Regions from separate parts of the Homo sapiens genome. Here region 2 is linked to region 1. The links come from fine-mapping of genetic effects on gene expression. A gene starts in region 1. The other region holds a variant in brackets. All regions are shown on one strand. Distances are from middle to middle.

Region 1 (15,371 bases):
CCTGCTAGGCTTGGGGACACTGAACAGAATAAGTCACAATGCTAGCCTTCAAACAGCTCATCTGGCAGTGAAAGAGACAGGCAAGTAAACGGATCACTGTATTATTTTGCAGTGAGTGAGAAAACTAGAAGCACATGCAGGGACCAGAAGTAGCATAGAAGAGAGGAAGCTTTTCTGGAGGAGGGGATTTCTAGGTTGGGTTTTAAAGTAGAAAAACGTGTTCAATGAAACTCAAAAAGAGAGTCTTCCACTTGTGAAAGGAGTGAGGACATCAGGCAGCAGCAAGCATTTAGTTTGCTAGAAGCTGCTTTTGTCTGATTGGAACATATAATGAAGGGTGAGTAGAGGCATGAGATGCAGCTAAAGAGATACACAGAGGCCAATCATGACTGGTCTTATACCCTAGGCTCAGGAGCTGGGATTTTTATCTTGAAGACAACATGTCAGGAAGAGACAAGGTCCTAAGCCCTGAAAATGATACATTCTGGTTTGCTATTGAGAAAACTCTCTCTGGCATGGGTAAAGAGGGTGGGTCAGATAAAGGCAGGCAAGAGGCAAGAAGGGTCTTTTTTTTTATTTTTTAGAGACAGAGTCTTGCTATGTTGCCCCATCTGGTCTCGAACTCCTGGCCTCAACTGATCTTCCTGCCTCAGCTACCTCAGCCTCTTGAGTCATTGGGATTACAGGCATGAGCCATCACACCTGCCAGGAAGGGTCTTGTTTGTTTGTTTGTTTGTTTGAGATGGAGTCTGGATCTGTCGCCCAGGCTTGAGTGCAGTGGCGCAATCTCAGCTCACTGCGGCCTCTGCCTCCTGGGTTCAAGCGATTCTCCTGCCTCAGCCACCTGAGTAGCTGGAATTACAGGTGCGTGCCACCATGCCTGGCTAATTTTTGTATTTTTAGTAGAGACAGGGTTTCACCATGTAGGCCAGGCTGGTCTCGAACTCCTGACCTCAAATGATCCACCAGCCTCGGCCTCCCAAAGTGCTGGATTATAGGTATGAGCCACCATGCCCACCAGAAAGGGTCTTTAAGAGTATAAATGAGAGACGCAGAGGCTGGTGCTCAGTTGAGAGCAGTGAGGTTGGACGGAAAGGAAGAGACAGGAAGGTAACAGCAGGAAGACTCGGTGACTGGTTGGATGTGCACTGTGACGGGGCAGGAGGAGTCCAGAATGACTCCTAACTTTCTGTGCTGGGCAAGTGGGTGGTGGATGGAACCACCAGCTGAAACAGGGCCTTTAGGGAAATGAAGAGGGAGTGGGAGAATGATGAAACTGGACTATTGAGGTGGAGGTGCCAGGAGGCAGGGATCGGCAGGCAGAGGAGAACTCCAGGGAGAGGCTCTTCCCTGCTCCCTAGGAAATGCCTGGTAGGATGCATTCCTGGGCAGAGCAGAAGTCTGTGACACCCACACTGGGGGCCTCTGAGATGAAAATCACCAACTGCTGAAACCAGCTGACTCCTATGGCAAGACATGCCTAGCATCCCCAACCTGAGCTGAGGAGTGGCTGGGAGAATCAACCACTTATTTACTCTCCAGGCTTCCCTTCTTAGTAAATGACACAACTACCTGTCTCCTCTGAAGTGCAAGCCCAAACCCTAAAACCTACTACACTTCCTGCCTCCTTTTCCCCATACCCATGCATCTAATCTAATTAATCTTCAACAATCACTCCATCTCAAACAGTCCCGATCATTCTTGGTCCCCTTATCTTGCCGTATCATCTTCATAGCATTTATATGATCTAAAATGATATTATACTGCTGCCTACTGGTTTACTACCTTTGTTGTCTCTGGAGCGTAGGCTCCAGGAGGGCAGGGGCCTTATCCCATTCATCTCCATATCCCTAATCCCTAGAACAGTGCCTGGTGCATTGTCAGAGCTCAATAAACGTGAATTAAATGAAGTTCATTTTTTTGTAAACTTCTTCAAACCTTTTTCAGCTTTACTAATATTCACCCTTCACTAATACCTGACATAAATTCTTAATTTTTTCTTTTTCTCTCTCTCTCTCTTTTTTTTTTTTTTTTTTTTTTTTTTTTTTTTTTAGAAATGGCATCTCACTATGTTGTCCAGGCTGGACTCAAACCCCTGGGCTCAAATGATCCTCCTGCCTTGACCTTCTGAGTAGCTGGGACTACAGGCACATGCCACCACACCCAACTATTAAATGAAATTCTTGATCCAACACTTCTCCCCGTCTCTGCTGCTCCCATAATGATTCAAGTCCCTGTACAATGCCTGGAGTGCTCCGGGAACCCCTCAGACTTGGTGACTGACTCTGTGTGGGTTGAGAAGGATGGGAGTCTCTTAGTCTTTTCATTTCCAAGTCATAACTCCTCTCCCATCCAGTCATTCTCCACAAAGCAGCCAAAATAATCCTCTAAATTCATGGACAAATCACTCCCTGCTTAAAATTTTCAGGTGGCCCTCAAGGGCCAGCAAGCTCAACTCTTTGATTAATCTCCTATCACTTTACACCTCACTCTCTACTCCTCACACATTGCTGCTTCTGTTCCTCAAAAAAAAATCTACCTTCAGGACCAGTCACACCTCTGTCGGGCACACTCTTTCCCAGCAATCTGCATGGGTCCCAGCTTAAATGCCACTTTCTGAGATTATCCTCCTTGGCCCATCCAATCTAGAATAAAGCCTGAACCCCCAACCAATCTTCCACAGCCCCAGCCACTCTTTAGCACATCAACCTGACTATTTCCTTCACATCACTTATTATAGCCTATTCTTGTTTATTGATTTGTTAACTTAATTATTGTTTCTCTCTTTTTCACCTCTCTCCACCCCCAGCAAGTACTCCAGTGCCTGGAAGATAGTTCAAGCTTAATTAGTATTTTTGAATTAAATTGTGCTTCCACTATCATGATAGTGATGATGACGATGCTGCTGCTGCTGCTGATAATGATGATGACAAGGATGATGACTGAGGATGCTAATATTCATGATGTTCTCCCCTAGCTTATTTGAGTTTGTGGATCCAATGACTGACTGAAGTATGTTCTTGACCATTTAATTAGAGACAGAATCCGCTGTTAAAAGCTTCATCTGGGCTTTGAAGGGTGTGTAGGGTGTGAGTGTATGTGTGTGTGTGTGCATGTGTGCATGTGTGCGTGTGTGCGCATGTGTGTGTGTGTGTTTATTCATACCAGGAGACCTATAGTCATCATTAGGTACAACTCACCACCTGTCTCTGTGGATACCCGCTCAGTAAAGGCAAAATGAAGATGTGTCAGGTCTCCTCTATCATTTTGCATGATGGGCTGGATTTATTGTGTTTCATAGACAATAAATATTGAGACAAGAAGACAGTCTCTTGGCCCCTTTAGATGCTTTTCCCAGCTCCTGCATTCACTCTGCCAGGAATGGGTTTTGAGGACATGCTAGAAAAGAGAGAAAATGCAATTAACCAGATGGTGCTAGGAGGAGGGACTGGGGCTGAAAGCCAACGCAGGCTGCAGAAGGAAGAGTGGCCACAAACTAAAACAGGATGACCTGTCAGTTTCAATCACACTGGTGAAAACTTTAGGAAACACATGGCTGAACACATTTCACATTGGTCCTGAAAAGGGAACAGGTTCTTAGTGAACTGAACACACTTCACATTGGTCCTGAAAAGGGAACAGGTTCTTAGTGAAATTCAAAAAGTAGAGATGAAAGAAATCTCTGGGCTGGGCACCATGGCTCATGCCAGGGTGAGCAAAACTCTGTCTCAAAAAAATAAAAATAAAAAAACCAGGCACAGTGGCTCATGCCTGTAATCCCAGCACTTTGGGAAGCCAAGGCAGGCAGATCACCTGAGGTTAGGAGTTTGAGACCAGCCTGGCCAGCAAGGTGAAACCCCGTCGCTACTAAAAATACAAAAATTAGGGAGGCGTGGTGGCAGGCAACTGCAGTCCCAGCTACGCAGGAGGCTGCAGCAGGAGAATCGCTTGAACCTGGGAGGCAGATATTAGGCCGGGCACAGTGGCTTACGCCAGTAATCCCAGTAATCCCAGCACTTTGGGAGGCTGAGGCGGGCGGATCACAAGGTCAGGAGATCGAGACCAGCCTGGCTAACACGGTGAAACCCCACCTCTACTAAGAATACAAAAAATTAGCCAGGCATGGTGGTGGGTGCCTGTAGTCCCAGCTACTGGGGAGGCTGAGGTAGGAGAATGGCGTGAACCCGAGAGGCGGAGCTTGCAGTGAGCACAGATCATGCCACTGCACTCCAGCCTGGGCGACACAGCGAGACTCCGTCTCAAAAAGAGAAAAAAAAAATCTCCAACAGTCATCTCATTTTGCAGATGGGTAATTTGAAGCCCAGAGAGAAAAAGGACTTTCCCAGGGTCACACAGCAATTGTATGGCTGATCTGAGACAGGAATTCTCACTATTCAAAGTTCAGTGATTTTCTGGCATAACAGACCAAAGAGTAGTCTCATCTTTGAACAAACAGCAAATAGATGGTTAACTCTAGTAATATCACAGGTGTATAGCCTAACTTTTAAGCTAAGTCATCCATGTGTACACTCATCTCTATGGCCACAGAAACTAGCAAGAGCCTGTGCCCAAAACTTACCCAAATTTCTGTGGCTTCTAATTTCTAGCTCTTCTTCCTTTCAGACCATGGCCAGACTATCACAAGACATACGTATCAATTCCCCTTTGACTTCCAAGCTGATACTGTCAAAGAGAACCAGAAACAACCAAAAGATATATGTTGTCAGAGAACTTGGTGTGCCCATAAGATTTATAAAAGCAGCAGGTAAATCATATTAGATAGTGAGTATTCTTTGAAGCCATGTCAGATCAGAAATCACGACTCTCATCCAATAAAACTGTGGAAAACAGGACCATTCTAGAATATCTAAGGTTCTGTGTGGGATAGAGTAATAACAGGAAATAAAAGAGGAAGTGCAGGTTAAGTCTACCATTCAGGATTCTAACTTGCCAAGTCATATTCCTGGTAGCTCAGAAAGATGTTTCTATAAAAAACAAAACAAAACAAAACAAATAAAGGCCAGGCAAGGTGGCTCATGCCTGTAACCCCAACACTTTGGGAGGTGAAGGTGGGAGGATGGCTTGAAGCCAAGAGTTTGAGACCAGCCTGGGCAACAAAGTGAGAACCCATCTCTACAAAAAATTAAAAAATAAAAAAATTAGCCGGGTGTTTTGGTCCATGCCTATGGTCCCAGCTACTCGGGAGGCTGAGGCAGGAGGATCCCTTGAGCCCAGGAGTTGGAGACTGCAGTGAGCAATGATCATGCCACTACACTTCAGTTTGGGTGACAGAGTGAGATCTCGCCACTACACTTCAGCTCAGGTGACAGAGTGAGACCTCGTCCCTAAAAAAAAATTTTCTAAACAACAAACATAAAATCTGGAATCAAAATAGTAAATCAAACATAAAATCTAGAATCAAAATCTGGTCTGATTGGTGCCATGTGGTTCCTTATCTTTTACCTAATTAGACCTATGGTCTGATCCCAAATAATGACCTTAGGCAAAATGTCTAAATACAAAAGCTTTCTTCCTTTACTTTACAATAAGAATAACAATCCAAGGCCACGGCAGGTGGATCACTTGAGGTCAGGAGTTCGAGACCAGCCTGGTCAACATGGCAAAACCCCATCTCTGCTAAAAATACAAAAATTAGCCAGGCGTGGTGGCACACGCTGGTAATCCCAGCTACTTGGGAGGCTGAGGCAGGAGAATCACTTGAACCCAGGAGGCAGAGGTTGCAGTGAGCCAGGATCACACCACTGTACTCCAGCCTGGGGTACAGAGTGAGACTCCATCTCAAAAAAAAAAAAAAAGAATAACAATCCAAATAATAAACATAATCATTACTTACTGATCACTACATATATGCCAGATAATATGTTACATACATCATAGTCCATGTTCTGTTGCTTTTTTTTTTTTTTTTTTTGAGATAGAGTCTTGCTCTATTGCCCAGGCTGGAGTGCAGTGGTGCGATCTCAGCTCACTGCAAGCTCCGCCTCCCAGGTTCACGCCATTCTCCTGCCTCAGCCTCCTGAGTAGCTGAGGCTACAGGTGCCCGCCACCATGCCCGGCTAATTTTTTTTGTATTTTTAGTAGAGACGAGGTTTCACCATGTTAGTTAGGATGGTCTCGATCTCCTGACCTCGTGATCCCCCCATCGCGGCCTCCCAAAGTGCTGGGATTACAGGCATGCGCCACTACACCCAGCCTTTTCTGCTGCTTTTAACAGAACACTTGAAACTGGGTATGCTATGTTGCTGGGGCTGGTCTGAAACTTCTGGGTTCCCAAAGTGATGGGATTACAGGCATGAGCCATCATGCCTGGTCTCACCATGTTGCCCAGGCTGGTCTCAAACTCCTGGGCTCAAGCAATCCACCTGTCTTTGACTCTTATGGTGCTAGGATTACAGGTATGAGCCACTGCACCTGGCCTCCGCCTCTTTTAATAAAGGTAAAAGATAAGGAACCACATGGCACCAATCAGACCAGATTTTGATTCTAGATTTTACGTTTGATTTACTATTACTCTTTTAATAAAGCCTCTTTTAATAAATCCATTAACTCCTTAAACCATCAATCCATGAATGAATTAATACACTCATGAGGGGAGAGTCCTCACGATCCATTCACCTCTTAAAAGCCCCACCTCTCAATACTGAATTCAGACCATGTTCGAATACAAACATTCAGACCGCCATGTTACCTTATTCGCATTTTTCACTTAATCCCCATCTCAAACCCGTGAAATGTAGGCATTATTATTTCCAACAAGAATCAGAGAGACGGCCAGGTACAGTGGCTCATGCCTGTAATCCCAAAACTTTGGGAGGCTGAGGCAGAGGATTGCTTGAAGCCAGCCAGCAGGTCAAGACCAACCTGGGCAGCAAAGTGAGACCCCATCTCTACAGAAAATAAAAAACTTAGCTGGACATGGTAACACATGCCTACAGTCCCAGCTACTCAGGAGGCTGAGACTACAGTGTAGCCACCGCCCCACCCACAGATTGCTCTTTGAGGTTACGGTGAGCTTTGCTCATGCCACTGCACTCCAACCTGGGAAACACAGTGGGACCGCATCTTAAAAAAAATTTTTTTTTTAAAGAATTAGAGAGATGAAGTAATTTGCCCATGTTTGTTAACAAGTGATAGAACCAATATTTGAATTTGTGTGAATTCTTCTTTAACTTTTAACATTTTTATTTTATTTTGGAGATGGGTCTCACTATGTCACCTAGCCTGGAGTACAGTTGTTACCAGAAAGGGATCCCGATCCAGATCCCAAGAGAAGGGTCTTGGATCTCTTCCAAGAAAGAATCTGGGGAGAATCCAGAATGTAAAATGAAAGCAAGTTTATTAAGAAAGTAAAGGAATAAAAGAATGGCTACTCCATAGGCAGAGCAGCAGCATGGGCTGCTCAGCTGCTTATACTTATTATTACTTCTTGATGATATGCTAAACAAGGGGTGGATTATTCACGAGTTTTCCAGGAAAGGGGCGGACAATTCCCAGAACTGAGGGTTCCTCCCCTTTACAGACCATATAGGATAACTTCCTGATGTTGCCATGGCTTTTGTAAACTGTCATGGCACTGGTGGGAGTGTCTTTTAGCATGCTAATGCATTATAATCAGCATATAATGAGCAGTGAAGACGACCAGAGGTTCCTTTCATTGCTATCTTGATTTTGGTGGGATTTGGCCAGCTTCTTTACTGCATGCTGTTTTATCAGCAAGGTCTTTGTGACCTGTATCTTGTGCCAACCTCCTATCTCACCCTGCAACTAAGAATGCCTTAAACTCCTGGGAATGCAGCCCAGTAGATCTCCGCCTTATTTCATCCAATCCCTATTCAAGATGGAGTCGCTCTGGTAAATGCCTCTGACACAGTTGCTATTCACAAACTCTATCACATACAGCCTCAAATTCCTGGGCCTCCCACCTTAGTCTCCCAAATAGCCGGGACTGCAGACACACACCACTGCGCCCAGCAAGTTTTTTTAGTTTTTAATCATTGTATTTCAAAAAGTAGTTGGGAGGATTAAATTTAAATTTTAAAAGTAAGGCACTTTGCAAAGTGTCAGCCCTTGGTATGTACTCAATAAATGGTAGCTTGTGTCCTCTCCTGTCCTTCTTCACATCCCTTGGCTTATCATCTGCAAGAAGGGGCAGTAAGGCTCTTTGGTAAGCGGGTTTCTTTGACTGGAATGCCCAATCCTCTACTGCCAACCCTCTATCCATCTATTGTAAAAACTACAGAATTCCTGGCCATCTAACTGGGCAACAAAAGTGAAGGCCAAGAGAAGATACCCAATGCCATCTTCTCCCATTCCAGCTGGAGGACTAAGACTCTAGGAGGCAAGGGGAAAGGGTGTCCTGGCTTTACTGTGAGAACTGGAGCAACTAAATTTTCTTCTCTGGGAGTCAGTTTTCCCTTTAGAAGGAGAGAGCTGGGCTGGAGGGCCCCAGGGGAATATGGATCGGTGGCAAAAAGAATGCTCAGCAAGCAATTTAACTCCTCAGACCGTGCCCCATCTTCAAAATGAGTGACAATAAAATGAATAATTGCACGTGGTCCACAAGGCCCCTGAATTTAAGTAAATCACACAAAGTGCTTAGCAGAGTCCCATGAACATAACGCGTTCCATAGATGTTACCTCTATTCCTGCTATTGTCATCATTCCGACCCTAACATTCAAGGTGTCTCTATTAAGCAAAAGGATTCCTTTGTGAATAATTTTAATCCGCCAATGTACTCAAGGGTCTATCTTAAGCACAGCTCTAGAGCCCTGATTGTAGCGCTTTCCATGGCCTGACGACCAGCTTTCCTGTCTCAAGGGGAAATCTGAGAATGGCCGAACAGCCATGACAGTCCTCTCGAAGAGTTCATTCCCCCTTCTCTCCGCGACCTGCTGAGGTCTGAGCCCGACTTCCCCAGCACGCCCATCTCAGTCACCATTGGTCGCCTCCTCGCTGGCGTGACTAAGACCCAGCCCTCTTCTCGCTGGGACCACTCTGAGGCGATCTGCGGAAGCTGAGGGGCCTCGGAGGAGGGGCCGCGATGCATCTCGGGCTTTGTAGTCCACCTGCACAACTACAGCCAGAGAGCGGGGCCTCACGAACCGGAGAACTACAATCCCCAGCAGCCGGGCGGAAGCGGAGCGAGGGGGGGCTCGCGTCACGTGGGCGTTCGGCCTGGGCGGGCTATTTCTCAGTGCGGCGGCGGCGGCGGTGGCGGCGGCTCCGGGGACCGGGGCCTTTTGTTTGGAGCGGCTGCGGGGGGGCCCCGGAGCGGCGAGGCCGGCGGCCTTCCCCAGCTTGCTCGGTCCCGGCCACCCCTCGCGGGGGTGGGGGGCCGCCCCCTGGGCCGGGCATCTCCTCAGGCGCCGCCGCCCCGCCCTAGGCCGGCCCCGCCCGGCCTGAGGGGAGGAACCGGCCGGGCCTCGCCGCGCGGCCCAGCCACCTCCGGAGTCGCCGCCTCTGCTCTCAGTGCCCCGGATCGGAGGCCGTCCATCGCCCCTCGGGCCGACGCCATGAAGATCAAAGATGCCAAGAAACCCTGTAAGACGGGGGCTGGGGCCCGCCAGGTTGGGAGGGCACCCTTGGGCCCCGTCTGAAAGCCCCTTGGCTGGGCGGTCGGCTTCCAAGCCCGTCGCTCCTCGCCGGCGCTTCGTCCGGTATGGGGGCGGAGGGACCATTTGAGCCACGAGTTCGAGGCTTCCGTCCTCCCCATCCCCCTATTCATGCATGGTGAATGCCTGCCGCCCCCTAGCCTTTCCTCCCACTTTCTCTTCGAGATCTGGGAGGTGCCAGAGGGAATTTCTGATTCTGATTTTTGTCAAACCAGACTAGTCTCCTCTCCCAGCTCCCCCTGAATTCAGGTTGAAAAGAGGCGGTCGCGGCTGTCAGGTTGCGCTGGCGGCTTTTAGCACCTGTTTTTAGGGATTTCCGGGCTTCCTGCTTGTGTCCTTGAAATGCCGGTGGGTTCCTGGGAGTTGTCACTGTTGTTACAGTTGGAGCTTTCAAACGTACGTGCATGCAGTCTGCCAGTGTGTAATTGCTTTGGCTTGTTTTTGTTTAGAATATCAACTAGTTCATGTTTGTTTTAGAAAACGCAGATAAACAAGAAAGATAAAGTCACCCGTATTCCCCGCACCCGGAGCGAACCGCTATTAATATTATGGTGAATACCCGTAGATATTTTTCTATGCATGTACTTAAATTCTGACTATGCTTTTAGAAAGGTCGACTTTCATTTGCTTCCTTTTATGTTTAGTCTTTTAAAAACCTTTTATTCCAGTAATTGACTTATTTAATCACCCAGCCATTGTGATTGTCACTCTTTTTAAGTATAGCCTCCCAGAAGGACTAGGAACGTGGGGATTCATGCTCATCTTAGAGTCGTATTGATACTTTTGCTGTTTTTACAGTGTTTCATGTGATCTCTTTAACTGTTAAGAAATCCACAACTATAAAACAGGGCGCTGACACCTTCCCTGCCCGCCTATCGGGGTTCCTGTAAAACTCACCTGAGAGGCAACAAGCCAAAACCCTGTGAAAACTACAAATTCCTATATAACTGTAAGGTAATTTGGTCTTAACTTCACAGGTGAGGAAATTGAACTTAGCCCCAGAGTAACTTTTCCAAGCATGTACCAACCATGTGCTATGTGGTTCATAACTCTAAGGGGACTGACTCATAATACAGTGTTCTTTCTCTTGCACCCATAGAGCATTGTCTAAGTACTTTATCTGGTAGTTTCATCTGTTAATTAAAATTTTTAAAAAATTATTTATAACTGAATAGATCCTGTCATAGTTGTTCAAGAAATCTATAAAATAGTGATGTGAAGGCTTAAATGAAAAGTAATATAGAGAGACTTTAAATTTTCATTTGCTGAATTAAACTAATGCATCTTGAACAGGTGCAGTAATTAGAACACTTGGACATTTTCCCTCACGCATACGTTTTCTCTGCTTCTCTTAGAATTTCCATTTGGTGAACAGTGTATGACCAACTCAAATTCTGACTCTTGTGGTGGTGATTATTTTCTTTTGTCATGATAGTGATTTGATTACTTAGATTTGAACAAACTAATAATCAGGTATGAGTACTACCTCCTTCAAAGGTGTTTTAGGAGAGATTATAAAGATTATTATGAGAAGTTTATAAAATAGGGCTAGGCACGGTGGGTCACACCTGAAATCCCAGCACTTTGAGAGGCCGAGGCGGGAGAATCGCTGGAGGCCAGGAGTTCGAGACCAACCTGGGCACCATAGTGAGACCTCATCTCTACAAATAAATAAATAAAAAGATTAGCCGGGCATGGTGGCACACGCCTGTAGTCCCAGCCAAAGACTTAAAAATACACATTAGGTTGAGAAATTAGAGAATACCCCCTGTTTTTCCCCAAATAAGTTGATTATTACAACATTGTGGTATGTTGTGAGACCATTAATCTTAAAATTGAATCATGCTGAAAATCTGGTCAGTTACTATGGTGTAGAAGCCTAACATTTTTATATGTAAAAGGTAACTTTACTGTCTGTTGTTTGTAGTAAAAGTAAGGAACATGACGTTTTGTGTGTGGGAAAGAAGGTATTTCAACCATGAACTGTCCCAGATAATAAAAAATAAGGCTGGACACGGTGGTTTACACCTGTAATCCCAGCACTTTGGGAGGCTGAGTGGGGCAGATCACGAGGTCAGGAGTTCGAGACCAGCCTGACCAACATGGTGAAACCCCATCTCTACTAAAAATAGGAAAATTAGCCGAGCATGGTGGCACGCGCCTGTAGTCCAAGCTGTTCGGGAGGCTTGAGGCAGGAGAATTGCTGGAACCCAGGAGGCGGAGGTTACAGGGAGCCGAGATCACGCCACTGCACTCCAGCCTGGGCAACAGAGCAACACTCCGTCTCAAATAATAATAATAATAATAATATTAATATTATTTTAACTTTAAATCACTCAGGTTAACAAAAGATATATTTGTTTTGTTTTTGAATACCTGTATGGGGTTTTTTTTGGCATAATTAAAACATTTATTGATCACATAGTGTGTGTATGGCATTTTCTTTATGTGCATTGCATCATTTAACTGCATACTAGAAGAAGCTGTATATTATATTGGCTAAACAAGTGACCTTGGCTTCACATTATTTACCTAAGTGTTAGAAAATATTTCTTCTAAATACATTACCAATATCTTAACAGGTTATAAACCCGAATGCATATATTAACCAGAAGATTTAAAAAGGAATTAGTTTCATCCTCTAAATTGTGTAACTGGAAGATTAGCATTTGAAATTATGTGTTAATTCAACGCCAGGGGAAGGAAGGAGAAAGTCAATCCTGTGTTACTCTCTTCCCTGCCTGCCATGATTTCTTAGGGTACAGATTTTTAAGATTGTGTTTGGGTTACCTGTATAGCATGTAACTGGATTAACAAGGTGATAGTAAAAGGTGATACATGTATTTAAGTGTGGTGTGATGTAGGTTTTGAGTTTGTGCTTTATTAACCCAAGTAGTAAGGTACTTGAAATTTTTGTTAAGACCAGAGAAAATGGTATAGCATATATTTGTAGTTTGTGTCTGTGTAATTTGATTGGCCTGTTGTAAACTCAGTTGTAATATGAGTCATCACTCCCAGTAGATAGTTGGGGTAGTAGTTTCTAATATAGCTCCCCTTAGAAATAACTAATTTACTAAAGAAAAAACCACTTACCTGAAGCTGTCCTAAGGAATCAGTACTGAGGGTCTGAAGATGATTATTTTCTTAAGTCTATTTCAGAACAAAACCCATTTTTGTTTGGAATGATTATTGAGAATAGTGAAATGTCTTATCCAGGAAGTTGAAGCGTTATCTAGAATATACCAGCATACATGCTAACTTTATAATTTTGTTCTTTTAAAATACCCTATGTTTCGAGCGTTTTTCATGTTGGTTTCCCTTTATGCCTAAAGAACAATTAAGTACTGATTTAGTTTAGTATCTCCCCCCTCCCCTATTTCTTTTTATTTTTTTTCTTTTGAGACGCGATCTCACACTGTCACCCAGGCTGGAGTGCAGTGGCACGATCTCAGCTCACTGCAACCTTGGCATGCCAGGCTCAAGCAATCCTCCCCCCTCAGCCTCCCCAGTAGCTAGAACTACAGGTGCTTGCCACTATGCCCAGCTAATTTTTTTGTTTTTGGCAGAGATGGGGTTTTGCCATGTTGCCCTTGCCAGGCTGGTCTTGAACTCCTTAGCTTAAGTGACCCTCCCGCTGGGATTACAGGCATGAGCCATGTTCCTGGCCAGGATCCCTTTAGTCTGAAATCTGCATGGTACCAGTAGCAATTAAATAGTTATGTTAGTGTTCTCTGCTTCCTTAGCAAACACTTAGTAGGATACTGAGTTTATCACACCTTGTTAGAAATTAACAGTCTGCTCTTGTGGCTAGATAGCTTCTGCTGTTTAGTATCTTAAAAGGTGATTGGACAAGAAGATTTCTCCTTTTGCATATATAATGCGTCTGGTAAGACATAGCACTTCATCCTTGTAGTAGTTTGAGATATTTTTGCTACATATGGGGAACTAATGTCAACTCTCATAAGACCACTTGAGACATAGAATAAGAGCTATTATTTTGTTAAAGGCATAATGAACAGGTCATGAGAGATTCTAATAATTCTCACAGTCTGGGACTGTATATTGACCATCATCAAAGTGCTTATATTTGTGTAATGTGTGTTTTGTTTTGCTTTTTAAATGTGTATTTTGGTTCTTTTTTTTCACCTTAGCAAGGAATGTTTTATTCTGAAAAAAAAAATGTTAAGGTTATATGCCGTAAGTAGGCTGCTTGTGCACTGATGACCTACTTTTCAAGGGTCTCTTGGCTAGAAGCAACAAAGCTATAAATATGTAGATACTTGCTTGATTTCCTAGGAAACTGGTATTTTTCTCTTTTTTTTTGAGATGGAGTCTCGCTTTTGTCGCCCAGGCTGGAGTGCAGTGGTATGATGTCAGCTCACTGCAACCTCTGCCTCCTGGGTTCAAGCAATTCTCCTGCCTTAGCCTCCCAAGTAGCTGGGATTACAGGCACACGCCACCAAGCCTGGCTAATTTTTGTATTTCTGGTAGAGACGAGGTTTCACCATGTTGCCCAGGCTTGTCCGAACTCCCGACCTCAGGTGATCCACCCACCTCGGCCTCCCATAGTGCTAGGATTACAGATGTGAGCTACCGCACCAGGCCAGGAAACGGGTGTTTTTCTTACCTCATGGAACTATTAGGTGGACCTGTGGTTGTACTTAATGTCTGTATATTTACTCATATTTTCACTGCAAATAAGTAAAGTTTGAGCTTCATGCCCTCCCCTTATTTTGGTGACATATATCAATCATAAGTATTTTGTAGATAATACTGGAAAATATATGTTGGTAATTAGACCACTTACTAAAAAAACAAACAACCCCATCAAAAAGTGGGCGAAGGACATGAACAGACACTTCTCAAAAGAAGACATTTATGCAGCCAAAAAACACATGAAAAAATGCTCACCATCACTGGCCATCAGAGAAATGCAAATCAAAACCACAATGAGATACCATCTCACACCAGTTAGAATGGCAATCATTAAAAAGTCAGGAAACAACAGGTGCTGGAGAGGATGTGGAGAAATAGGAACACTTTTACACTGTTGGTGGGACTGTAAACTAGTTCAACCATTGTGGAAGTCAGTGTGGCGATTCCTCAGGGATCTAGAACTAGAAATACCATTTGACCCAGCCATCCCATTACTGGGTGTATACCCAAAGGACTATAAATCATGCTGCTATAAAGACACATGCACACGTATGTTTATTGCAGCATTATTCACAGTAGCAAAGACTTGGAACCAACCCAAGTGTCCAACAATGATAGACTGGATTAAGAAAATGTAGCACATACACACCATGGAATACTATGCAGCCATAAAAAAGGATGAGTTCATGTCCTTTGTAGGGGCATGGATGAAATTGGAAATCATCATTCTCAGTAAACTATCGCAAGAACAAAAAACCAAACACCGCATATTCTCACTCATAGGTGGGAATTGAACAATGAGAACACATGGACACAGGAAGGGGAACATCACACTCTGGGGACTGTTGTGGGGTGGGGGGAGGGGGGAGGGATAGCATTGGGAGATATACCTAATGCTAGATGACGAGTTGGTGCAGCGTACCAGGATGGCACATGTATACATATGTAACTAACCTGCACATTGTGCACATGTACCCTAAAACTTAAAGTATAATAATAATTTTTAAAAAAAGATTTAAACAAAGGAGTGTATCATAATTGAGAATTTATGTCTCTTCTGTTTGTGCTGCCTTCTTTGTGCC
Region 2 (15,371 bases), 34 kb after region 1:
AAATATATGAATCATAGTTCACATTAACCAAAGTACAGTGATGAAATAACTTAGACTCTGACCATTCCATTTTTTCTTAAAGATTGCCCTAAATCTATAGATGCTAATACAGTATTTGCCACAGGTATAAAACTTGTAGTTACTGTCATTCAATTAAGATTCTTATCTGTACAGATATACAAATCAGAAACTTTTAAAATAAATTGAACTAATGGAATTTTGGCTCCAATATTTAGTCACTACAATGGAAATATTAAAGCAAGGAACATGAAGTCATTGTAGGGTTTTAAAATGGCTACTGACTGACATGAATTCAGAGTTTCAAACAGTCTAAATTCTAAAAACTTAACTTTACACGCTTTTCCTCCTAAATAACCACTCTAATAATTCATACATTCATATCTTCAGGTAAAGAAAACTGAATTTTAAACAATTGAGGCTGGGTGCAGTGGCTCATGCCTGTAATCGAATATAAGGACTTGAGTATAAAATTTGAAAACTACATGGGGAAATGTCTTTATCATGCATCTCTTGATAGTCTACTGAAAACTATTAAGTAAACCTGCGGTCTGTAAACAAAAAAACCCATAGTGATACTTACCTTGTGTAATGTAAACAATTTTTTAAGCTCTTTAAAGTACATCTAGATTTACTGGTAATGTATAGAAGTCAATTTTATCCCCAAGCATTTCTACTTCCTAAACCATTAGCAAGAGTCTCAAAACAACTTCACTAAACTATTGGACCTCCAGTGTTAACTTGCCAACATAAAAATCTGAAAAACTTTGTAATCACTATCAAAAATACAAAAGAGAGAATAAATTCCCAGGTAAAAGGCTTTACAAATTTTGGAACTATTATGCTTTTGTTTACTAAACACTGATCCTTTTAGTAATTCTGCAGTATTGCCTCAGACTCCCACAAAGTTTCAAAATAGCTCATCTATTAGATTCCTGTAACATTTATTTGGGATAAACGTGGTTTTGTTGCCGTTGTTCATAATAGAATAAAATATTTAGCTTTGATGGTTCAGATGTAATACAAAGAAATAACTAAGTTTGGGCCTGAGATAAATGTGGTAAAGCAAGAATGCAGAGATGCTGTAATGATGAGTGAGTTTTATAGCATTACTGAGGACCTGAAAACTTGCTGCCAAGGACACTTTGAAGGTTTTGTTGGCTGGAAGAAGTGTCTCTGGAATCCCACTCCTAGCTCTTCTTGAATATTTGAAAAGAATTAGATAAGGGCCATGGGGACCCAGGTCACCCCACCTCTTCTTTTCAGTTTGGCTACAACATTGGAGTCATCAGTGCTCCTGAGACAGTCATACAGGACTTTCTCAGTTACACTTTGAAAGAGAGGTCAGAAGACTCTCCCTCTGAGGTTTTGCTCATGTCCCCCTGGCCCTTGTCTGTGGCCATCTTCCCCAATGGTGATATGATTGGCTCCTTTCTGTTGCACTCTTTGTCAACCACTTTGGCAGGTGCAGTTCAATGCTTATCATAATTTGTTGGCTATTACTGGTTGCCTTATGGGATTCTGCAGACAAGCTGAGTTGGTTGAAATGCTGATCCTGGGCCACTAGATTACTGGCTTGTAATGCGGACTCTGCACAAGTTTTGTGCCCATGTACATTGGAGAGATCTCGCCTACTCCCCTTTGGGGTACCTTTAGTGCTCTCAACCAGCTGGACGTCGTTGGTATTCTGGAGATCCAGATCTTTGGTCTGGAGTTCATCTTGGGGTCTGAAGAGCTATGCCCAGTGATACTGGGCTTTACCATCCTTCCAGCTGTCCTATAAAGTGTAGCCCTTCCATTTTGCCCTGGAAGTCGTAAGTTTTTGCTCATTAACAGAAAGGAAGAGTACTAATGAGATCCTTCAGCAATTGTAGGGGACTCAGGATGTGTCCCAGGACATCTAGGAGATAAGAGTGCTAGGATGATACAAGAAAAGCAAGTCACTACACTGGCGCTCTTTAGAGTACCCAGCTACCAACAACCCACTGTCATTTCCATCATGCTCCAGCTCTCTCAGTAGCTCTCTGGAATCAATGTTGTCTTCTATTACTCAATGAGAATCTTCAAGGATGCAGGTGTTGAGAAGCCAATCTATAGATTAGTGCAGGAGTGGTTAATATTATCTTCTTGACTGTAGTCTCTCTGTTTGTGGTTGAAAGGGCAGGAAGGACTTTACATATGATAGGTCTTGAGGCATGGCGTTTTGTTCTGTCCTCATGATTGTTTCTTTGTTATTAAAGGATGAGTATGGTGGGATGAGCTTTGTCTGTAGTGGGGCTATCTTGGTCTTTGTGGCCTTCTCTGAAGTTGGACCAGACTCCGTTCCCTGGAATACTGTGGCCACACTCTTCAGTTTGCAATAGCAGTGGCTGGTTGCTCCAACTGGACCTCCAACTTTCTAGTTGGATTGCTCTTCCTGAACAATTATTATCTAGTTTAAGTGTGTTGTTGCTTTAGGGTCATGGCATGCTTATGTATTTCTGTTACCATCTGACCATGGTACTATGCCAAGTTCTCTTAGGGGACCTGAATCTTTCCAGTAGACCACATTTGAGAGAGTATGAGTCAACTGGGCATAGTTCCCAACAACCCAAAATACATACGTACTTCACTGAAGCAGATCTCATGATTCCATTGACTTCATTTCTAAAATTGGACTTTGAGCAGCCAATTTCTAAGGATTAAAAAGAAACTTTAATGCATTGTAGACCTCTGTACACAGAAAAATCTTTGTAACTTTTGGGCTTAATTTTCATTCTTAAAAAATCTGGTAACTTTTTCAAATGCAACCACTGTCAGTTTGCTGTGAGGCTAGGCAAACAACACAAGGTATAGAATTTCCCATCACCACCACCCTGACCCCGCGAGAAGATTGCCTTTTAATTAGAGACTTGTAGAACTAGTGCCTTTTAAGTTCTACACTCATCTTTTCCAAAGACTATTAGTAAACTTGCCATGTAATTTGACATGGCAGTTCCTTGCTCAGCTACTCTAAATAAAGTTGGAAATTAGGTGGTCTCTTAGTTTGGGTAAAGTCAGTACTATTGCCAGTAATATACATGGTAATTGAAAGCCCTTAAAGTGGTTCAGATTATTTGCCAAATATTAGACTCTATAAAAATTTCTGAGGTTTTTTTTCTTTTACCTTTGAGTGTACATGTGATTGCTATAATGTAAATACCAGTCCCTTAAAGACTGTTTCTATAAGCAGAATGATGCAGCACAAAGTGGAAAGGTTTTCCTCTTATTCCAGCAGTATTCTTGCCTTCAAAGAGTAGTCCATCTTGCCTTGATTTTTAAGGTTGTTTTCTTGGATGGAAAGCTTAACTGGATAGTAATTTCCATATGTTCTTTATAACCACTCTGTATATTATAAGCAAAGTTTTTTCATATTGTATCTTTTTCTGTTGAGCACTTTATGCATTTTAGTCTATTGCATTTGAGAATGTAGTTTAGAAATTCACTGTTTAAAGCCATGTGAAAACTGATAGAGGATAATGAAAATGAGTGTACATTATTTTGAATTTAACTTAACTGTTTTGTGGTGGGTGTGAACAAAACATTAGAAATATATTATCTTTTTGTGATAATACTCTCTGACCTCACTTAAAGTGATCTGCCATGAGGTATCCATGATCAAGTTTATGTTTATTCTAATACCTAAGGAATTCAGCCAACTTTGTTTCTATCATCAGATAATCTCAGAAAATAGTGTGTTTTATCTATATTACTGCCTCTTTTCAATATTTAAGAGAATAATTGTCTTCTGGTTTCTACTGAGCCTAGTAATAATCACTAAAGACCTAAAAAAGGAATTCCTTCTGTTAAGAGTATTTGGATAGCCCATTCACGATAATGGTGGTGTGAAAATCAATCATCCCAGCTTTTCTGACATATCTAAATTTTGAATAATTAATTTCCACTTCCAAAAAATTCAAATGTTTTCTCAAAGCAGTCACTACTTATTTGCATTATTCCTGCATATTCAGTGAATGTGAGGTCATATTTGGTATTGTATTAGAAGTAGTGTTGGTCACTGGTCTTGCCTCTTTGAACATTATTTTTATTTGTAAAATGAGGGAGTTGGTTTGTTATGATGGGAAATGAGTCAGTTTTCAGGGTCCTGAGAAAATTGCTTCATTCATGGCTGTGTTTGAGATAACTAAAGTAAATTTTTTTTCAGGTATTTGGTGTCATGTTTTGGAGTTAATATTTAGTGCTTATATAATTTTAAGTTATTACATAATTTTTATTGGTATATATTTGATAGGTACTAGGTATTGGATTCTCACCAAACCAGTAGAATGGTATTCTCTCTTAATATGTGATTGCCTGTAATGGCCAGGTAGATATACCTTAAAGTAATATGAAAGGTTTTATATGTATATTAAAATGTTTGTACTTTTAAATCTGTAAAGGTTATCTGGAATTTTTACTGTGTTAACTTCAGAATTATATGGGCATTATGACTTTTTCATTGTACAAAAAATTATTCATAAATGTTAGAATACAGATGTTCCTTGACTTACAATAGGGTTATGTTCCAGTAGACCCATTGTAAATTGAAAATACCGTAAGTTGAAAATACATTTAATACGCCTAACCTACTGAACATCCCAGCTTAGCCTAGCCTATCTTAAATGTGTTCTGAACACTTAACGTTGGCCTTTAGCTGGGCAAAATCATCTAATACAAAACCTATTTTATAATGAAGTGTTTAATATCTCAAATAAGAGTATTGTACCACATATCGTTATCCCAGGATAATATCAGAGTACAAAATTTGAAGTACAGTTTTTAACTGAATGTGTATTGCTTTTGCCCCATTATAAAGTTGAAAAACCATAAGTCAAACCATTGTTAAGTCGGACTGTTTGTGTTACATATATTTGGGATTTTTTAGTGGCCCTTTTTAAAAAGCTGTTTCTTATTTCTGATCATTGTGAGTGGGGATAGATGTGGGAAGAACCATGTCTCTACTAAAAATACAAAAAATAGCCAGGCTTGTTGGCACACACCTATAGTCCCAGCTACTCGGGAGACCGAGGCAGGAGAATCACTTGAACCGGGAGGCAGAGGGCAGATCATGCCACTGTATTCCAGCCTGGGCAACAGAGTAAGACTCTGTCTCAAAAATGAATGAATGAATGAATGAACGAATGAATGTACTATGAGCTGATACTGGGATTTCAGGTACCGCAGTTTGTGCTGAATGATATGTTTGGGGTAAATCAGTTTTTTTCTTATAGAATTTCGGCGTTTTTGCTGCAACTGCCACTAATTTTGCATTTAAAAGAACAAAAGAGGAATGTATTTTTCAAAGGAGTGAATGAGGTTAAAATCAAGATTTTGAATGGTATAAATATGCAACTAATTCAGTTGTAGGATATTATTAAATTTTTTATTGCTAAATATGTTTCTTTCATACGTTGCAGTGCTTACAGTTCCAACAGCTTTCCAAGAAAACATTTCCATATTTGTGTTATTTGTAAAGTATACATAAATAATGTAAAATAATTTGGGATTATTTCAACTTTACATTGTATGTCTGAATTTCATCGATGTTGTACCTGGCTCAGTCAATAGTTGTCACAGGTATTAAGCCATTTTGGAATTTGCCACTTTTTTCTGGGTAACCTGTTTTAGTTTAGTTTACAGCATTTAGAAACAGAAGGTAACTTTATAGAAGTAACACCAATATCCTAGTCTGCTTGCCCCGAATATAACTAATAGTATTAGGATGTAAGCAATATTAAGATGGTTTTTATTATTTTTTATACACTGTGTGCTTTTACTTTTTATTTAAACTACAGCAAAAAACTGATTTTTTAACTAAAATTGAATGGCGTTTATCTTAATGACCAGTTATTGACCAAAGTGTACTCAGAAGATGTTATTATGTCCCAATCTAAGGAATCCTTTAATTTGGGGATTAATTTTACTTACACATGCCATTTCAGTTTCAGTTGCCTCATTCTATTACATCATTCTTGTCAAGTCTAAGCTTTATCATGTCTGAATTCTTTTAACACTGAATCTGTGATGTAAAAATGTATGATGTGCCATAAATTTTATTCATAATAAACTAAGTTATAGCCTATTGTAATCTGTAAAACATTTCTTGTAAATTACCTAATTTATTTTTTCATTTATGTACAGTATCTTATGTAAATTTGAAAAATGTTTGCCATGGCGCATTCTGTAAACATTCCCGTATTCTTTTCCTTAATGCTTATTTGCATGAAGGTAACTTGGGTTTTGCTTGTTTGTATTGGATAACCATTAAGCCAACTTCAGTTTCTCTGCCTTTTTTTCTGTAGTTTAACCATTTCTAATTTTGTTCATATTCTAAATAGATGTTAGAATCATACTTTTTATTTTCTACTTTCTAAATAAATTATCTAAGTTGTTTACTATGTGTGCCTTTTTATTATTTAACTTACATATTCCCACATTTTCACTGTGATTAAATGCAAGGTTGTGGTTAGTTCTGTGAGAGCAAGAACTTTGTAAAGTCTTGTTCACCTCTAGATCCCCAGTACCTGGCACAGAGAAGGCATTGATGAAATTCAGGGCTTGCATTTATTAAGATGTGAAAACTTGCCCCCCTGAGACCATGTTATCCTGCATCAGAAATGAATGTTGTTGGCTTTTTGGTTTTGGGTTTGTTTTTGTTTTTGTTTTTATATATAGTCTCTTTGTTGACTGAGCTGGCGTGTAGTAGTGCAGTCATAGCTCACTGCAGCCTCAGCCTCCCAACTAGCTGAGACTACAGGCATGCACCACCATGCCTGGCTATGGTTTTGTTTGTTGGTTAGGTGTTTGTTTCATTTTGTTTGTGTGGTGTGTGTGTGTGTGTGTGTGTGTGTGTGTGTAAATGGGGTTTCGCCATGTTGTCCAGGCTGTTCTCAAACTCCTGGGCTCAAGTGATCCACCCACCTTGGCATCCCAAAGTGTTGGGATTACAGGCTTTATGGAGTATGTGAGATGTTTTGATACAAGCATGCATGTGAATTAAGCACATCATGGAGAATGGAGTATCCATCGCCTGTTAAGTTTGTTTAAAAAAATCATCTTAATATGTGAGGCAGTAAGTTGGAAACTTGATGGCTGTGTTTTCAAATTGTATGATTGTCGTGGCTCCAGGCATAGTTTTCAAATCATATTATTGTCTTTACTTGGAGCGTAGAGGAATAGTTGAAAACGTGAACATGACTACCATGTGACATGTGAAGTACATATCTTTTATTTAAAAAAAATTAGCAAGAACTAGGATGAAAAAAATCTAAGATCTGGACTAAAGGAGAACATGATGCAGTATGGAAGAGATTTGAGGTGTAGTTTAGCTATTCAAATGTAGGAAGTACTGCTGTCGCAAGCACTTAGAAATAAGCTCCTAAAGAGCATACATTCAAGGCTACACACTTAAGTCTTTCATTTAAATAAACTTTCCAAGGAGGGAAAAGTCTGTACTGGAGTCAATACACAGTGCTATATAAATTTTGAAAGTGGCCAGGAGCAGTAGCTCACACCTACAATCCCAGCACTTTGGGAAACCAAGGCAGGTGGATCACTTGAGGCCAGGAATTCGAGACCAGCCTGGCCAATGTGGCAAAACCCCATCTTTACTAAAATTACAAAAGTTAGCTGGGTGTGGTGGTGCACACCTGTAGTTCCAGCTACTGGGGAGGCTGAGGCATGAGAATTGCTTGAACCCAGGAGGTGGAGGTTGCAGTGAGCCAAGATCGTGCCACTGCTCTCCAACCTGGGCGACAGAGCGAAACTCTGTCTCGAAAAAAATAAATTTTGAAAGCAGGATGTCTACTTTCTATGATATAGTCCTTAATGAGTGTATTGTGTACTGAACAAACTTTAATATTTCTGCATTTAAAAATCTATTGATCATTTTCTATGGTAATACTATAAGTTCCTATTTTAAGATATTCCTATACATCTGGTTTTGGTGGGTGGAGAGGAGTTTAAGATTTGACTTTTTCCCTAAAGTAAACCTGGAAAACCTGACTAGCTTCTGGAACTTTACATCCTTTTCATAGAAAATTGGTACTTTCTGATAGTTTTTAATGTTACCCAGAGGTTAACAATACCCCAAAAGTGCAGTTGACCATATGTTTAGGTAAGTAAGTGCTTATCCCCAGCCAGGGCTTTAAACATAACCTTTACAGTTTCTGGAAACAGTAGCAAAAATTACCAAAACTATGAAGGCATATTCTTTTTGATTTAAGCCCATTTTCCTCATTTTCTTCTAGCAAGAGTTTGGAGTCCAGCCAACCCAGATTTCTTTGAAAACAAAAAAACACAAAACATTAAATGATACCACTAAAAGAATTCAAGCACCTGGCCAGGCGCAGTGGCTGACTCCTGTAATCCCAACACTTTGGGAGGCCCAGGCGGGTGAATCACGAAGTCGGGAGATCAAGACCGTCCCGGCTAACACGGTGAAACCCTGTCTCTACTGAA[A/G]ATACAAAAAAATTAGCCAGGCGTGGTGGTGGGCACCTGTAGTCCCAGCTACTTGGGAGGCTGAGGCAGGAGAATGGCATGAACCCGGGAGGCGGAGCTTGCACTGAGCCTAGATCTGTGCCACCGCACTCCAGTTTGGGTGACCGAGCGAGACTCCATCTCAAAAAAAAAAAAGAATTCAAGCAGCTGAACTTGAAAAAAGTAACTTGGCCCTCCATATCTGTGAGTTACACATCTACAGATTCAGCCAACTGTGAATTGAAAACATTTGAAACAAAAAATAATACAACAATAAAAATAATATATGGAAGCTTGATGAGAACACCTGGACACAAAGGAGAATGACAGAAACTGGGGCCTACTTGAGGGTGGAAGCTGGGAGGAGGGAGAGGATCAGAAAAATATCTATTGGGTACTAGGCCTAGTACCTGGGTGATGAAATAATCTGTACAATAAACTCCTGTAACATGAGTTAATCTGTATAACCTGCACATGCACCCTGGAACCTAAAATAAAAGTTTAAAAAATAATGCAAGTAAAAAATACAGTATAACAGCTATTTGCAATGTATTAGGTATTAAAAATAAGGATAATTTAAAGTATATAGGAGTTCCCTAGCAAGCAGACTCAGAAGGGGAAAAAAACCATATAGGAGGATGTGTAGGTTATATACAAATACTACGCACTTTATATAATGGACTTGAGCATTCATGAATTTTGGTATCTGCAGAAGTTCCTGGAACCAATCTTCCATGGATAGAGAGACAATTGCACGTCATATAGCAGCTTTTTTAGTTGTCTCATTTTGACAGTTTGAATAAAATATTCTGACACCTTGTGTTTTCAGATTTCCTAAAGCACCTTTGCAGGTTTTCGGGACAAACCTGCAAAGTTTATTACTTCAAAAATGATTTCAGTGAATTTGTAATTAATCTTGCTGATTTTGGTTTAGTTTTGGGTTTGGACCTATTTATAATCAATTTTATTGAGGTATGGCTTATACATTAATATTCTAACTGTACATTTAAATAAGTTTGATAAATGTGTACACCCATGTAACCACCACTCCAAGGTATTTGCATCATTCCAAAAAGTTCCCTTCCTCCATCTTAGTCAGTCCCCTCCCATCCCCATCTGTAAGCAGCCACTGATTCGCTCTAGATAAAATTTGTCTTTTCTAGAGTTTTTATGTAGATATGTAGACTACATAAAAAGTCTTATGTAGACTAGATAAAATTTGTCTTTTCTAGAGTTTTTATGTAAATGGACCAATACAGTAGATATTCCCAATCTCTCTTTCTCTCCCAGCCCTAGACTTCATAGAGCTACTGTCTACTTTCTGTCCCTATAGATTTGCTGTGTTGTGTACTCTTGGGTCTGCTTCCTCTCAGCATAATGGTTTTGAGGTTAATCTATATTGTTATCAGTACTTCATTCCTTTTTACTGCTCATTAATAGTCCATTGGATGAATATACTACAATTTGTTTATCCATTCGCTTGTACATTTACATGCAAGTCTTTGGGTGGACCTATGTTTTTATCTGGGATAAATAGTGAAATTGCTGGATTGTATGGTAACTCTGTAAGAAAATGGAAAACAGTTTCCAAGAGGTTCCATTTTACATTCACTCCAGCAGTGTCTGAGAGTTCCACTTGCTCTGAATCCATGTCAACAATTGGTATTGTCCGTCTTTTAAATTGTGGCCATTCTTACCTGTGTGTCATATGGTCTGTCTGTGCTTTTAATTTGTGTCTCCTTGATTACTGATGACATTGAGCATCTTTTCAGATCCTTATTGGCCTTTCATATATATCTTCTTTTATAAAGACAAAATCTTTTGCCCATTTTTCATTGAGTTGTCTTGTTACTGACTTGTAAGAGTTCTTCATATATTCTAGTTAGAAGTCCTTTGTTGGATATATATTTGAATAGTTTCTCCAAATTTATGGCTTATCTGTTTATTTTCTTAATACTATTTTGAGGAACAGAGCTTCATCTTGTTGAAGTCCAGCTTCTTATGCTTACACTTTTTGTGTCCTAAGAAATCTTCGCCTAATCAAGATCATGGATATTTTCTCCTGTTTTATTCTAGGCAATTTGTAGTTTTAATTTTTATCTTTCAGCCTATAATCAATCAATCTTTGTGTATGGTATGAGGTAAGGGTTCAGGGTTTTTGTTTTGTTTTGTTTTGTTTTTTTGCATGTGGATTTACGGTTGTTTCAGTATCATTTGTTGAAAGTATCCCTTCTTTTTGGTTGTGTGGGTCCAGGAGCTGGAGGAAGACAGGGAGGAAACCTGTGGGTGTGGTGGATGTATTCATTACACTGTGATACTTTCATATGGGCGGGTATATATAGCAGAACTCATCAAATTGTCCTTTTTTTTCTTTTTCTCTGTGGTCCAGGCTGGAGTGCAGTGGCGCTATCTCAGCTCACTGCAATCTCCGCCTCCCAGGTTCAAGCAATTCTTGTGCCTCTGCCTCCCAAGTAGCTGGGATTACAGGTGCCTGCCACCACGACGGGCTAATTTTTGTATTTTTAGTAGATAGGGGATTTTACCATGTTAGTCAGGCTGTCTCGAACTCCCGACCTAAGGTGATCCGCCCACCTCAGCCTCCTAAAGTGTTGGGATTATAGGCATGAGCCACGGCACCCAGCCCAATTGTCTTTTAAATATGTGTGGTGTATTGTACATTGATTATACCTCAATAAAGCTCTTCTACAAAGATACAAAATAAACATTTATACTTGTGTCAACAAATTCAATTCTCTTCTCACCCTGATTATGAAATTTATGGTTTGACCCATTCTAGGCAAGCAAGTCAAACTAAATTATTGACATTCTGTTTTTTCTTGGGTTCATTTCCAATATGCTATTTTATTTATTTATTTATTTAGAGACAAAAGTCTCTCTCTGTCACCCAGGATGGAGTGCTGTGGTGCGATCTCAGCTCACTGCTACCTCCGCCTCCCTGGTTCAAGCGATTCTCCTGCCTCAGCCTCCCGAGTAGCTGGGATTACAGATGCGCATCACCATGCCTGGCTAATTTTTTTTAAAATTATTATTATTATACTTTTTAAGTTTTAAGTTACATGTGCACAATGTGCAGGTTAGTTACATATGTATATGTGTGCCGTGCTGGTGTGCTGCACCCATTAACTCATCATTTAGCATTAGATATATCTCCTAATGCTATCCCTCCCCCCTCCCCCCACCCCACAACAGTCCCCAGAGTGTGATGTTCCCCTTCCTGTGTCCATGTGTTCTCATTGTTCAATTCCCATCTATGAGTGAGAACATGCGGTGTTTGGTTTTTTTGTCCTTGCAATAGTTTATGGAGAATGATGATTTCCAATTTCATCCATGTCCCTACAAAGGACATGAACTCATCATTTTTTATGGCTGCATAGTATTCCATGGTGTATATTTGCCACATTTTCTTAATCCAGTCTATCACTGTTGGACATTTGGGTTGGTTCCAAGTCTTTGCTATTGTGAATAGTGCCGCAATAAACATACGTGTGCATGAGTCTTTATAGCAGCATGATTTATAGTCCTTTGGGTATATACCCAGTAATGGGATGGCTGGGTCAAATGGTATCTAGAAAACCCCATCATCTCAGCCCAAAATCTCCTTAAGCTGATAAGCAACTTCAGCAAAGTCTCAGGATACAAAATCAATGCACAAAAATCACAAGCATTCTTATACACCAATAAAAGACAAACAGAGAGCCAAATCATGAGTGAACTCCCATTCACAATTGCTTCAAAGACAATAAAATACCTAGGAATCCAACTTACAAGGGACGTGAAGGACCTCTTCAAGGAGAACTACAAACCACTGCTCAATGAAATAAAAGAAGATACAAACAAATGGAAGAACATTCCATGCTCATGGGTAGGAAGAATCAATATCGTGAAGATGGCCATACTGCCCAAGGTAATTTATAGATTCAATGCCATCCCCATCAAGCTACCAATGACTTTCTTCAGAGAATTGGAAAAAACTACTTTAAAGTTCACGTGGAACCAAAAAAGAGCCCACATCACCAAGTCAATCCTAAGCCAAAAGAACAAAGCTGGAGGCATCACGCTACCTGACTTCAAACTATACTACAAGGCTACAGTAACGAAAACAGCATGATACTGGTACCAAAACAGAGATATAGATCAATGGAACAGAACAGAGTCCTCAGAAATAATGCCGCATATCTACAACTATCTGATCTTTGACAAACCTGAGAAAAACAAGCAATGGGGAAAGGATTCCCTATTTAATAAATGGTGCTGGGAAAACTGGCTAGCCATATGTAGAAAGCTGAAACTGGATCCCTTCCTTACACCTTATACAAAAATTAATTCAAGATGGATTAAAGACTTAAACATTAGACCTAAAACCATAAAAACCCTAGAAGAAAACCTAGGCATTACCATTCAGGACATAGGCATGGGCAAGGATTTCATGTCTAAAACACCAAAAGCAATGGCAACAAAAGCCAAAATTGACAAATGGGATCTAATTAAACTAAAGAGCTTCTGCACAGCAAAAGAAACTACCATCAGAGTGAACAGGCAACCTACAAAATGGGAGAAAATTTTCACAACCTACTCATCTGACAAAGGGCTAATATCCAGAATCTACAGTGAACTCAAACAAATTTACAAGAAAAAAAACAAACAACCCCATCAAAAAGTGGGCAAAGGATATGAACAGACACTTCTCAGAAGAAGACATTTATGCAGCCAAAAGACACATGAAAAAATGCTCATCATCACTGGCCATCAGAGAAATGCAAATCAAAACCACAATGAGATACCATCTCACACCAGTTAGAATGGCAATCATTAAAAAGTCAGGAAACAACAGGTGCTGGAGAGGATGTGGAGAAATAGGAACACTTTTACACTGTTGGTGGGACTGTAAACTAGTTCAACCATTGTGGAAGTCAGTGTGGCGATTCCTCAGGGATCTAGAACTAGAAATGCCTGGCTAATTTTTGTATTTTTAATAGAGACACGGTTTTGCCATGTGGGCCAAGCTGGTCTCGAACTCCTGACCTCAAGTGATCTGCCTGCCTTGGCCTCCCAAAGTGCTGGGATTACAGGCGTGAGCCACCGTGCCTAGCTCTATAATGCTACTTTAGTCTAAACTCTTCTCAATGTCGTGAAGAAAAAATGGCCATCCTGAATCTTTTTTTTTTTTTTTTTTTGAAACAGGGTCTCATTCTTTCACCCAGGCTAGATTGCAGTGGCACGGTATCATGATTCACTGCAGCCTCAAACTCCCAGGCTCAAGCTGTCCTTCCACCTCAGCCTCCTGAGTATCTGGGACCATAGTTACGCACCACCATATGCAGCTAATTTTTTAAATTTACTTTTTGCAGAAATAGGGTTTCCCTATGTGACTCAGGCTGGTCTCAAACTCCTGGGCTCAAGTGATCTGCCCATCTTGTCCTCCCAAAGTGTTGGGATTACAGGCATGAGCCACCACGTCCGGCCCTGAATCTTTTTTTAAGAGACAGAGTCTCACTATATTGTCCAGGCTGGCCTCCCAACTCCTGAGCTCAAGCGATCCTCTCACCTCAGCCTTCCAACTAGCTGGGACTACAGGCATGCCCCACCACACCCAGCTATCCTGAATCTTAAAAAGACTCTTATCGTCTAAGAGCAAACTTCAAATTAGAGGTGCCCTAGGATTTTTCACATATCAAGAGCCAGTGACCAGCCAAACTTGGGAACAGAGAATCCAAGAGTTAGCAGGAATCTCACAGACTGCTGAATCAAACTCAAGATTTGTTTATAGGGAGGACAAAAAGTCCAGAGAAGTCAACTAGATTGTCCTAGATCACACAGCAAGTTATTAAGAGAACCAAAACTCAACCCTAGGTGTCCTCACCTCCATCCCAGTGCTTTTTTTTAATACCCTCTTTGTATTGGACAAATGGCATATGGCACCAGAATGTTATCCAAATAAATAATTTGGAACTGGGCGCAGTGGCTTACACTTGTAATTCCAGCTTTTTGGGAGACCAAGGCAGGAGGATTGCTTGAGCCCAGGATTTCAAGACCACCCAGGGCAATATAGTGAGACCTTGTCTACAAAAAATTTAAAAATTAGCTGGTGATGCCTGCCTGTGGTCCCAGCTACTAGGGAGGCTGAGGTGGGAGGATCATTTGAACCCAGGAGGCATAGGTTGCAGTGAGCCCAGATTGCACCACTGTACTTCAGCCTGGGCAGCAGAACAAGACCCTGTCTCAGAAATAATAATAATAATAAATTTTGTTATAACAAGAAAGAGCAATCAATACAGAAAAAGCAGGACAATTTAAATGTGGAAAAAACCAGAAAGATGAAAATATTAATGGGCCAAACTTGCCAGTTAGAGGAGTGTGAGATTTGAGTTTAAAAGGAAAACAACTTCTAGGCCAGGCACAGTGGTTCATGCCTATAATCCCAGTGCTTTGGGAGGTCAAAGCAGGAGGACCACTTGAGGCTGGGAATTCAAGAGCTACACAGGCAACATAGCAAGACCTTGTCTCAAAAAAAAAAAAAAAAATTAGCTGGGTGTGGTGGCACATACCTGTAGTCCCCAGCACTTTGGGAGGCCAAGCCAGGCAGATCACTTGAGGTCAGGAGTTTGAGACCAGCCTGGCCAACATGGCAAAACCCCATGTCTACTAAAAATACAAAAATCAGCTGGGCATGGTGGTGCATGTCTGTAATCCCAGCTACTCAGGAGGCTTAGGCACGAGAACCACTTGATCCAGGGTGGAGGATGCACTGAGCCGAGATCACACCACTGCACTCCAGCCTGGGTGACAGAACAAGACCCTGTCTCAAAAAAACAAAACAAAACAAAAATATTCTGGAG

The links. PIP is the estimated chance that this variant, and not a neighbour inherited with it, causes the effect.
Region 2: its variant is the best candidate, but not a certain one, in a credible set for the expression of PANK3 in fibroblasts (GTEx, PIP 0.56).

Annotation. Positions count from the first base shown.
Region 1 is chr5:168,573,447-168,588,817 of GRCh38, reverse strand. PANK3 (pantothenate kinase 3) reads left to right here and starts at 9,450. Exons shown (of 7, transcript NM_024594.4): 1 at 9,450-9,562. The coding sequence starts at 9,535. RefSeq lists silencers at 4,927-4,976, 9,173-9,502 and enhancers at 9,019-9,562, 9,653-9,722.
Region 2 is chr5:168,539,558-168,554,928 of GRCh38, reverse strand. PANK3 (pantothenate kinase 3) reads left to right here. Exons shown (of 7, transcript NM_024594.4): 7 at 1-6,434. It also overlaps the pseudogene SLC2A3P1. Among named protein-coding and RNA genes, the nearest start is that of MIR103B1, 14 kb to the left of the region's middle. The variant A/G (reference allele first, on the strand shown) is at 8,497.